3 linked regions of the Homo sapiens genome follow. The protein of the gene in region 2 purifies or fractionates together with the protein of the main gene of each other region. This does not show direct contact. Each region holds a gene or a part of one and is shown on either strand. Other genes may lie near its edges.

Evidence for each region.
Region 1: the proteins of CDK5RAP3 (region 2) and PLD2 purify together in Homo sapiens (co-immunoprecipitation; 3 studies listed by BioGRID and IntAct, with this or other methods). This does not show direct contact.
Region 3: the proteins of CDK5RAP3 (region 2) and PIP4P2 purify together in Homo sapiens (affinity purification with mass spectrometry; 4 studies listed by BioGRID and IntAct, with this or other methods). This does not show direct contact.

Annotation. Positions count from the first base shown.
Region 1 is NC_000017.11:4,817,101-4,820,923, forward strand, and holds part of PLD2 (phospholipase D2), read left to right. Parts: coding exon of another isoform or gene 1-45; coding exon 46-159; intron 160-901; coding exon 902-1,006; intron 1,007-1,196; coding exon 1,197-1,285; intron 1,286-1,393; coding exon 1,394-1,507; intron 1,508-1,673; coding exon 1,674-1,723; intron 1,724-1,983; coding exon 1,984-2,118; intron 2,119-2,328; coding exon 2,329-2,482; intron 2,483-3,823.
Region 2 is NC_000017.11:47,974,113-47,977,712, forward strand, and holds part of CDK5RAP3 (CDK5 regulatory subunit-associated protein 3), read left to right. Parts: intron 1-287; coding exon 288-336; exon of another isoform or gene 337-973; coding exon of another isoform or gene 974-1,046; coding exon 1,047-1,225; intron 1,226-1,401; coding exon 1,402-1,541; exon of another isoform or gene 1,542-1,756; coding exon 1,757-1,901; intron 1,902-2,599; coding exon 2,600-2,710; intron 2,711-3,600. UniProt on the Homo sapiens protein: Substrate adapter of E3 ligase complexes mediating ufmylation, the covalent attachment of the ubiquitin-like modifier UFM1 to substrate proteins, and which is involved in various processes, such as ribosome recycling and reticulophagy (also called ER-phagy).
Region 3 is NC_000008.11:91,020,239-91,024,061, reverse strand, and holds part of PIP4P2 (type 2 phosphatidylinositol 4,5-bisphosphate 4-phosphatase), read left to right. Parts: intron 1-2,657; coding exon 2,658-2,806; intron 2,807-3,798; coding exon 3,799-3,823. UniProt on the Homo sapiens protein: Catalyzes the hydrolysis of phosphatidylinositol-4,5-bisphosphate (PtdIns-4,5-P2) to phosphatidylinositol-4-phosphate (PtdIns-4-P).

The sequences.
Region 1 (3,823 bases), about 43 Mb from region 2:
GGCAGATTGGCACCTCCTGCTGACTCTGCCATCCCTCCACGTCAGACCACCAAGGCCAAGTACAAGACTCCCACATACCCCTACCTGCTTCCCAAGTCTACCAGCACGGCCAATCAGCTCCCCTTCACACTTCCAGGAGGGCAGTGCACCACCGTACAGGTGAGGCCCCCCACTTCAGCCAGCCCTCCCCTTTGTCTCCTTCAGCCTAACACCCCAACCCACTCTCCCTGGTGTGAGAGCTGCCCACACTCTCCTTTCCTGGGGTTAAGAAGCACATCACGGCCAGGCACGGTGGCTCACGCCTATAATCCCAGCACTTTGGAAGGCCAAGGCAGGCGGATCACAAGGTCCGGAGATCGAGACCATCCTGGCTAACATGGTGAAACCCCATCTCTACTAAAAATACAAAAAATTAGCCGGGCGTGGTGGTGCGTACCTGTAGTCCCAGCTACTAGGGAGGCTAAGGCAGGAGAATCGCTTGAACCCAGGAGGAGGATGTTGTAGTGAGCTGAGATCACGCCACTGCACTCCAGCCTGGGCAACAGAGTGAGACTCCATCTCAAAAATAAAATAAAAGGCCAGGCGCAGTGGCTTACGCCTGTAATCCCAGCACTTTGGGAGGCCGAGGCAGGCGGATCACGAGGTCCGGAGAGCAAGACCATCCTGGCTAACACCATGAAACCCTGTCTCTACTAAAAATACAAAAAATTAGCCGGGAGTGGTGGTGCGTACCTGTAGTCCCAGCTACTTAGGAGGCTGAGGCAGGAGAATGGCGTGAACCCAGGAGGAGGAGCTTGCAGTGAGCGGAGATCATGCCACTGCACTCCAGCCTAGGCAACAGAGCGAGACTCTGTCTTAAAAAAGAAAAGAAATGAAGCACATCGCATTCACCATTCCCTAGGTCTTGCGATCAGTGGACCGCTGGTCAGCAGGGACTCTGGAGAACTCCATCCTCAATGCCTACCTGCACACCATCAGGGAGAGCCAGCACTTCCTCTACATTGAGGTCTGACTGGGAGGAGGTGGGGGAGAGCATGGAAGGGGTGTCCCAGGAGAGAGACCTGGGGAATGAGTGGAGTCAGTCATTGAGGGCTGGTGGAGCAGAAGCAGACGCCTGGAGCCTGGGACCAAGGCTGGAGGCCGAGGACAGGGCCAGGGGCCAGGCTGCTGATGTCTGTCTCTGATTCTTGCCCCAGAATCAGTTCTTCATTAGCTGCTCAGATGGGCGGACGGTTCTGAACAAGGTGGGCGATGAGATTGTGGACAGAATCCTGAAGGCCCACAAGTAAGGTGGACTGTCAGGAAGGTGGGGACTGTGGGTGTGGTTTGAGCCCGGTTGAAGGGGGTGGGGTTTGAGGGACCAGTCGCACCTCTGACTCCACCCCCTCCCCAGACAGGGGTGGTGTTACCGAGTCTACGTGCTTTTGCCCTTACTCCCTGGCTTCGAGGGTGACATCTCCACGGGCGGTGGCAACTCCATCCAGGCCATTCTGCACTTTACTTACAGGTGACCCCCCAGGCGGACTCCAGCTCTCAGTGGCCCCATCCCACCCGTGTCCCCCTCCTGATTCTGTCCTGATCCCTTCCTGCTGGGCCTTAAAGAAGGGCCACCTCTCCTGACCTCCCCTCCCCTCTGCCAGCCTCCACTTCTCTCCCTCTTTCTTTTCTCTCAGGACCCTGTGTCGTGGGGAGTATTCAATCCTGCATCGCCTTAAAGCAGCCAGTGAGTGCTGGGGGCTGGGGGCTCAAGCCCTGGGCCCCTGGGAGAGGGAGATTGGGGCGCTGCAGGCCTGGGGGTGGGGGAAGGAGGCTGTCACTCCTGTGAGCCTCTGACGCTACGCAGACCATAGCTGGCCTTTCACTGCAGGGAGAAGGAGAGAGACCAGACTCTATGTAGGAAGAGTTTCTGGAGTGAGAGGAGGTGGGACAGGGCCCTGTGCACACAGAGCCACCTCTCACCTCACTTCCCCTCCTGTCACGCAGTGGGGACAGCATGGCGGGACTATATTTCCATCTGCGGGCTTCGTACACACGGAGAGCTGGGCGGGCACCCCGTCTCGGAGCTCATCTACATCCACAGCAAGGTGCTCATCGCAGATGACCGGACAGTCATCATTGGTCAGTGCCGGATCTAGTCCTCTGGCAGGGAGAGGGTGTGGGGACAGGCGAAGAGATGAGAGGCAGGATGACAGAGACTGCAGCTGAGGCTCGTGTAGGGGTGGAGGGTCCAAGAAGGAATGTTGCAGGCCAGTGCTTTGGTAGAGGGGATGGGGTACTGGGGAGAGTGCCCTGGGCCCAAGCACACAGTGTGCCCCGCATCCACCCCAGGTTCTGCAAACATCAATGACCGGAGCTTGCTGGGGAAGCGGGACAGTGAGCTGGCCGTGCTGATCGAGGACACAGAGACGGAACCATCCCTCATGAATGGGGCAGAGTATCAGGCGGGCAGGTTTGCCTTGAGTCTGCGGAAGCACTGCTTCGGGTAGAGCTGGGGCGGGATGCCACAGGGTGGGAGGGAGATGGGGGCGTCTGCCTTTTGAGCAGGACAAGAGGTAGCACCGCATAGGTACTCCCGGAGCCAGAGGTAGAGGCAGTACTAGATTCTCAATAGGCAAGGCTGGGCGCGGCAGCTCACGCCTCTAATCCCAGCACTTTGGGAGGCCAAGGCGGGTGGATTGCCTGAGGTCAGGATTTTGAGACCAGCCTGGCTAACATAGTGAAACCCGTCTCTACTAAAAATACAAAAAATCAGCTGGGTGTGGTGGCGGGCGCCTGTGATCCCAGCTACTAGGACTAATCAGTTTAGAGTATCAGTAAAGCAGGAACACCAAAAAACAAAAAGAGAAAAAAATCTTTTTTTTTTGAGACGGAGTTTTGCTCTTGTTGCCCAGGCTGGAGTGCAATGGCGAGATCTCAGCTCACTGCAACCTCTGCCCTGGGTTCAAGCGATTCTCCTGCCTCAGCCTCCCGAGTAGCTGGGATTACAGGCATGCGCCACCACGCCCAGCTAATTTTGTATTTTTAGTAGAGATGGGGTTTCGCCGTGTTGGTCAGGCTGGTCTCGAACTCCCGACCTCAGGTGATCCACCCACTTCAGCATTCCAAAGTGCTGGGATTACAGGCGTGAGCCACTGCACCTGGCCACGAAAAAGAAATCTTTTTTGTTGTTGTTGTTGTTGTTGTTGAGACACGGTTTCACTCTTGTCGCCCAGGCTGGAGTGCAATGGCACGATCCTGGCTCACTGCAACCTCCGCCTCCTGGGTTCAAGCAATTCTTCTGCCTCAGCCTCCGGAGTAGCTGGGATTACAGGCGCCCACCACCACGCCCAGCTAATTTTTGTATTTTTAGTAGAGACAGGGTTTCGCTGTGTTGGCCAGGCTGATCTTGAACTCCTGACCTCAGGCTTCGGCCTCCCAAAGTGCTGGGATTACAGGCATGAACCACCGCCCCTGGCCAAAAAAAAAAAAAAATCTTTTTTTTTTTTCTTTTTTTTTGAGAGGGAGTCTCACTGTCGCCCAGGCTGGAGTGCAGTGGCGCGATCTCGGCTCACTGCAGGCTCCGCCGCCCAGGGTTCATGCCATTCTCCTGCCTCAGCCTCCCGAGTAGCTGGGACTACAGGCACCCGCCACCTCGCCCGGCTAATTTTTTGTATTTTTAGTAGAGACGGGGTTTCACCGTGTTAGCCAGGATGGTCTAGATCTCTTGACCTCGTGATCTGCCCGCCTCCGCCTCCCAAAGTGCTGGGATTACAGGCATGAGCCACCACGCCCGGCCAAAAAAAAAAAACTTTTGTGTTTTGTTTGTTTGTTTGTTTTCTTTTTG
Region 2 (3,600 bases):
CTCCAGTGGGGATGCCTACATAGAATATTTCCTGAACTTTCACTCTGTCTCTATAGTTTACTCCAAAAGTGGATCCTATCCCTGAGTTTAATTTTCAAACCCACTGCTTTAGGGATTGCCTGCACTCTTAAAGTGGGTGGTCCAGCCAGCAGAGTTGAAAGAAGGACAAGGAGTTTGTGTTTGATGTGATGTAAAGGCTGGGAGAACTTACCCTGTTTAGGGATTGAGCTGGGATGTGGCTGTCGAGTGCTTTTCTGGCTTAACATTGTTTTTCTGTTCTTACTCAGGATTGGCAGGAGATTATAGCTCTGTATGAGAAGGACAACACCTACTTAGGTAAAGTGGCCCGGCCTGGGAGCCCTGGTATCCATGGGGAAGCCCACTCTCAGAGTTCTGAGATACCAGGCTTATAGGAGGCACAGTCTGTGAGTGGGAAGAGACTGGAGTGTAGATGTTGCCCATTTGTAGGTGGTAAAATCAATTGTTTTTGATGGAATTGATTTTCCCTGAGTGGAGTGCTGGGGGAAGGAGGAGGTCCAGGCCGGTAGTGGCCATTCGCCGTGCCTCAGCGAGCAGGTGTGTGTGGGTCCTCCACCACTCACCTCTTGGTTAGCGGGAGTGTGCTGCCCCCACCCCCACCCCCGCACCCCCATTCTACACAAGGCAGAAGAGGCACGGGTTTTTCTGGGAGCGAATATCAAGTGCCTGAGAGCAACTACAGGACTAACTGTGTTTGGGTTGGGTGTAGTATAAATAATAATAATGGCTAATATTTCCTGAGCATCTACTAAATGCAAGGAATTGTGCTTGGTGTGTCATGTGGATTCTCTCTTGCATCTTCATGATAAATGTTATTGTCGCTGTTTTACCGATGAGGGTTGGATTAGAGGGGTTAAACAACTTGTCTTAGGCTCCACAGCTGGGAACAAGTGGGGCTGGGAAGCTGACTTCGTGCTCTTCACCACCACAAAGGATGTGTGTGCATCCTGGGGCATGCCTGCCTCATGTGGGGGTGTCCTGGGCTGAATTTCCTGGGCACTTCTCAGTGGAACTCTCTAGCCTCCTGGTTCGGAATGTCAACTATGAGATCCCCTCACTGAAGAAGCAGATTGCCAAGTGCCAGCAGCTGCAGCAAGAATACAGCCGCAAGGAGGAGGAGTGCCAGGCAGGGGCTGCCGAGATGCGGGAGCAGTTCTACCACTCCTGCAAGCAGTATGGCATCACGGTGAGCGGCGGCAGCCTCTTCGCAGCCAGAGGACACCTGGGCCCCTGCTTGTCTTCCTCTGACCCCGTCTGACCCCTCAGCCTGGTTGCACCCCCTTTGGGCCAGTGTCTTACTTTTCTTCGGTCTTTGGATGTTTTCTTCAATCTGTTGGACTCCACCTCTTCTCCCCTCTCTAGGGCGAAAATGTCCGAGGAGAACTGCTGGCCCTGGTGAAGGACCTGCCGAGTCAGCTGGCTGAGATTGGGGCAGCGGCTCAGCAGTCCCTGGGGGAAGCCATTGACGTGTACCAGGCGTCTGTGGGGTTTGTGTGTGAGAGGTAGAGAGGCCTCAGCTTCTCCTGGTGGGGGTGCTTTGCCTGTGTTCCCCAGCTCATGACCCTTCTCCAGTTGTCTTGTTCCCATATAACATTTGAACTCTTTACACACCTGAACCTGTGGGGGCCTTGCCCATTTGACCATGTGGCCCAGGCCAAAGCCCAGTGTTGGCCTTACGCATGGTCGGCAGGAGAGTCAGTTGTGTGCTCTGTTGAAGCCCCACAGAGCAGGTGTTGCCAATGCTGCGGTTCGTGCAGAAGCGGGGAAACTCAACGGTGTACGAGTGGAGGACAGGGACAGAGCCCTCTGTGGTGGAACGACCCCACCTCGAGGAGCTTCCTGAGCAGGTGGCAGAAGATGCGGTAAGATGGGCCTTGTGATGAGCTGTAGGAGTGGAGTGGGAGCTGCTTGTCCCCTCCCCACCCCCAACAGCCCAACCCAAGACCCAGAGAGAAGAAGGGAGGATTTCTGTGAGAGTGACTGTAGGTAGAAGGGCCCAGGAGGCCCTACTCCTTTATTTTTCTGAGTATAGGTGAGTGAGTGCCACAGAGGCTTTGCAAGGTGGTTCGCTTTGAACTCGGAACCTCCATCATGTGAGCTCTCTGAAGATGGGCTTTCTTTGGGGTAGCTTAGAGGCCACTGCATTTGAACAGTGTGCTCTCTACAGAAGCAGCTGAGGCCTGTGGGAAGGCAGCCCCACCCTCCTTTTTAAATTAATTTATTTTTGAGACTGGGCCTTGCTCTGTTGCCCAGGCTGGAGTGCAGTGGCATGATCCTTGCTGACTGCAACCTCTGCCTCTCAGCCTCAAGCGATCCTCCCAAGTCAGCCTCCAAGATAGCTGGGATTACAGGTTTGCACCACCACTCCTAGCTAATTTTTTATTAACATCTTTGTAGGGACAGGATTTTGCCATATTGCCCAGGCTGGTCTCAAACTCCTGGGCTCAAGCAATCCACTATCCTCGGCCTCCCAAAGTACTGGGGTTACAGACATGAGCCACCATGCCCGGCCCTTTTTAAATCCATCTTCCATGAGCTAACACTCTCTTTCCCTTTCCAGATTGACTGGGGCGACTTTGGGGTAGAGGCAGTGTCTGAGGGGACTGACTCTGGCATCTCTGCCGAGGCTGCTGGAATCGACTGGGGCATCTTCCCGGAATCAGATTCAAAGGTGAGGAGGCCTTCTCAGTCTGTCTCTCTCTGATCACTACTCTAACCATAAGAAAAGTGTCATTTGTGTCTGTAACGGCATCACTTGAAGTTCATAGCTCTAAGACCAGGTATAGTCCAAGGGAGGCAGAGTTTCACACGTCACATGTCAGAGTTTTGTTTTGTTTTTTGAGACAGAGTCTCATTCTGTCGCCCAGGCTGGAGTGCAGTGGTGCAATCTCGGCTCACTGCAACTTCCGCCTCCCAGGTTCAAGTGATTCTCCTGCCTCAGCCTCCCAAGTAGCTGTGATTATAGGCGCCCACCACCACACCCCTCTAATTTTTTATTTTGTTTGTTTGTTTGTTGAGACAGAGTCTCACTCTGTCGCCCAGGCTGGAGTGCAGTGGCATCATCTTGGCTCACTGCAACCTCTGCCTCCCGGGTTCACGCCATTCTCCTGCCTCAGCCTCCTGAGTAGCTGGGACTACAGGCGCCCGCCACCACGCCCGGCTAATTGTTTTGTATTTTTAGTAGAGATGGGGTTTCACCATGTTAGCCAGATGGTCTCGATCTCCTGACCTCGTGATCCGCCCGCCTCAGCCTCCCAAAGTGCTGGGATTACAGGCGTGAGCCACCGCGCCCGGCTAATTTTTGTATTTTTAATAGAGACAGGGTTTCGCCGTGTTGGCCATGCTGGTAACTCCTGACCTCAGGTGATCCACCTGCCTCGGCCTCCTGAGGTGCTGGGATTACAAGCGTGAGCCACTGCGCCCAGCCCATGTGAGAGTTAAATTTTGATGTCCTTTTTCTTGGTGTTTGGTACAGGGTGTAGGGGTAAAGGCAGGTGGGAACACTACAGAGCAGGGATGATGGGCCATACTGCCATTTTTGGCACCTAAGTCAGGGCTGCA
Region 3 (3,823 bases), on a different chromosome or scaffold from region 2:
ATTTGGAGAGAGTTGTCTTCTATATAAAAGAAGCCCTTGTTTTCCATCAAGCTGCACTCCCCTGCTAGAACCTTAGCTCCTCTGCAAGGAGAGTAGGGTTAATGTATTAGGTTGGTGCAAAAGTAATTGCGGTTTTTGCTATTTGAAAGTCGTAGCAAAAACCGCAGTTACTTTTGCAGCAACCTAATACTTGGTGTTATTTTTCCAAGACAAATAGATATGTCTAATAAATTTTAGTGACTCGCTGATTTATTAATTAATTCAACCATTGAATAAACATTTAGTAAGCATCATCATAGACCAGGCATTATGACAAGCGCTGGTGAAGTAGCTGTGGACAAACCAGATGTGCCCCTGGCCTCGTGGAGCTTATGGTCTCTCTTATATTAGATTTATAATCTTCACTGCTTGTTCTGTCCATGTCCCTCCACTTCCCAAGCCTCCAAAAGAGTAGATTTGAGCATATTTCTGTCATTGAAGGCGTTTTTTTTTTGGCAGATTAAAAATTATATAGTACAAATCTTAGAAGAAAAATTCACAGGGTTTTACTGGCTCTAATGCCCTTTTAATGATTGTTAAGATCACCCTCTGAAATTTTCTTAGGAGATTTCTTTGAGCAAAGCTGAGGAGTGTATGGGTTGGTGTCCTTTTATGTAGTGTAGCAATATGTCACTTCCTCCTCTCCCCCTAATGCCCTTGTTTTCTTTATAAAACTGTCTTGCATTTAAGTTTCCTTTCTATCATACTGTGTAAGATAGAGACCTGGGATTACGAGAGAACTATGTAATGTTACTGTACAACTCAAGGAAAAGGCCAGAGAGGAAGCAACTTTTGTTAATAATGCTACTGCAAATAATTATTAAAATAATATTCATTATCATATACCAGGCAGTGTGTCTTGAATTTCTAGTGAGGTACATATTCTTTCCCCAAGAATAATGTCTTTATTGAGATCTGACAAAGTAATCTGCAAATTGCAAGACCTTAAGTATATTGTTGACTCATTGTTTCTTTAACATGTTTTTTTCTTCTTGATTAATACATTACAGGTCACTCTGGATCACGCTCAAATTCTTTTCATGGATTTAAAATTATTTTTATAATTTAAGACATGTACAGCTTCTTTTGAATTTCAGTGTTTGGCAGTGTTCTGTTATAAGCCTCCCAGAAACATAAGCATATCGTCATTTCAAAGTGGCCTCTTTCAGAGCCTTGGCTGCTGCAGAAATTTGTCTTATGAATCATTTGAACGAATACCACTTGTTGCTAATCCTTAGCAGTCTGAAAAAAATCCTATATTATAACCCAAGGATCAGGTAGAAATATGTGTATTTTAAACATACCAAAATGTTTTATGCTCTAATTCTTTTTAAAATATCACAAAGTTTAGGACCTAATACAGTGGATAGAAAACCTTTATTTCAAAAATAGCTCTTATTATGCTTAGCTATTGTGATTATATTTTATAGTGTTACAGAAGCCTCTTGAGATACCAGTTCTCTTTCGTGCTTCAATCATATGTTAGAGTGTGGCCCTTTCTAAATGTCCCAAGACAAAACTTTACCTTGGAAAAGTCTTCTATTCCTGTAGTTGAGATAGTTACAGAAAGGGGTTAGGCAGTCTCCTTTAGAAATCCCATTCCAGAGTAGTATATCAGGATTCCTTTTCTCAGACTTTTGTAACAAATATACACTTCTGGTAGATACTTGATTTTGAAAGTGGGCCTCCACCCTTCACTCACTCACTGAGTCAACCTTAGGACTCTCAAAAAAAACACTGTGTGTGTGTCTTTGTATTATGGGAATTTTCAAACATACACAAAAGTAGTGTGAAACTATGACCTTCCATGTCATTATATTCATCAGTTATCAACATTTTGCTACTTGTTTCATCTGGTTCCCCATTCTTTTTGTGGTGGTTGTTGTTATGGTTTTTGAAGTTTTTAATCCCACATACTACATTTTTTTACTCATAAACACTTTGGTGCATTTCTTACATTTTTAATGGTAGGTAAATTTTGAGACTAAAAATTGTTATATTTACTTTATTTTTGTTTTGTGTCTGAAATTAGCATGGTTCCCATTTTTGTTCCATGCTGAGAAGTTTAGTTTTCTTAGGTTCATTTTTGTTTCTTCTTGACTTCCTCCAACACCTTGTTTTATTCTTGTCATAGCCAGCAGTCATTATACTGGTTCCAATATAAAGACAGAGCATGACAGCTACATAATTTATATGTATGGATAAGCAATTTTAAAACTTTGCTTTCATCGACCATTTTTATTTCCTGGGAATCAGATCACTTGTGTAAAATTTTTATTGTAGGCATAAATTACCACTCTCCTGTTAGAGACTGTATGAATTTACTAATAGGAATGGAGTGACATTTTGAGTATAGATTAGTAAAAGGAAACTGGGTTATTGGGATAGACCTAGGCAAACATGATTTAGATTTTATCAGAGTTAAGAATTATTTTACTTGATAAGAGTCTCATGGATGTTTGTGCTCTAAAAGTAAGATAAATTGGCTAGCTTTGAAAAATAAATAAAAGAACGTGGGAAAATCTTGATTGTTTCTTCTTTACTTATATTGCCTCTATACTCAAACCAGCCATAGTAATTTCTCCAAGACTCTGATTCAGTGACTAATATCTTTTCAGCGGAGCTCCCACCTCCATATACAGCCATTGCCAGTCCAGACGCCAGTGGTATTCCAGTAATAAACTGCCGTGTGTGCCAATCACTAATCAATTTGGATGGCAAGCTTCACCAGCATGTGGTTAAGTGCACAGTTTGCAATGAAGCTACGGTAAGTGGAGATTTCCATTAGAAAAAATATAAATTGTTATTTGACATTTTATTCCTAAAGGAAGTACTTCAATAATGTTACTTAAAAGTATATGTGGGCTGGATACAAATATGGTAATCTTTTTTCCTGTCTTTTCTTCTGTCTCTCTTTCATCATAGGATACCTCACTGTGTTTAAAGCTAACCCCATTAAGAGAATTTCATGGTGAATTTAAATATAATGCCTTTTGGCTTTTTACTTTCAAAAACTAGACTGAGCATGGCAGTTACGTATAAATACTTTCAATATCTATCCACATCACAACTACATTCATTCTTGTTTTCATTAAAATGAAAATATTGTGTACTAAACTTCATTACAGATGTAAACTTTGCCCTATTTATGTGGAAAATTATTTGAAGTTATTTTATGTCTGTAGGATGTCACTATTGTTTTTCTGGGCTTTTGTGATTATGCATTTATTATTAGCATCTGTGCCAAAGTGTTTACAAATAGTTTGACATTTTATTCAATTTAGTTGATAGTAATTTAGGAATGTTTAAAATATTGAATAACACCTTTCCTTTTTTAAAAATTGAGCTTTGGGGAGCAACTAAATTTTCAGCAGTATTTTTATAGCTTCAAGTAATAAACTGGTAAAGCATACACTGGTTTAGATGAAATATATTTCTTTCATAGTTAGGCTTTATATATTACATTTTGATCTCTCAAAATCTGCAATTAAATATTAATTTTATCTTTGATGTTTTATTTTTTTCTCTTTAGAAAAGACTAAAAAAAGTCAGCCAGTGATTATTGTGTCTTGAAGGACCACAAAACATGAATACTTGACTTCATATGTTTTATAGAAAAATCATAAAATAAAACCTTAAGTTACAAAAGCAATATATTTCATTAGTTTTAATGGAATCCTTTCCTTTTTAAACACAAACAAACTTTGACAATCTGTACTTTGGTTAATTGCTGTGTTTGCATTTTCTTCCCTTATCCAGCCAATCAAAAACCCCCCAACAGGCA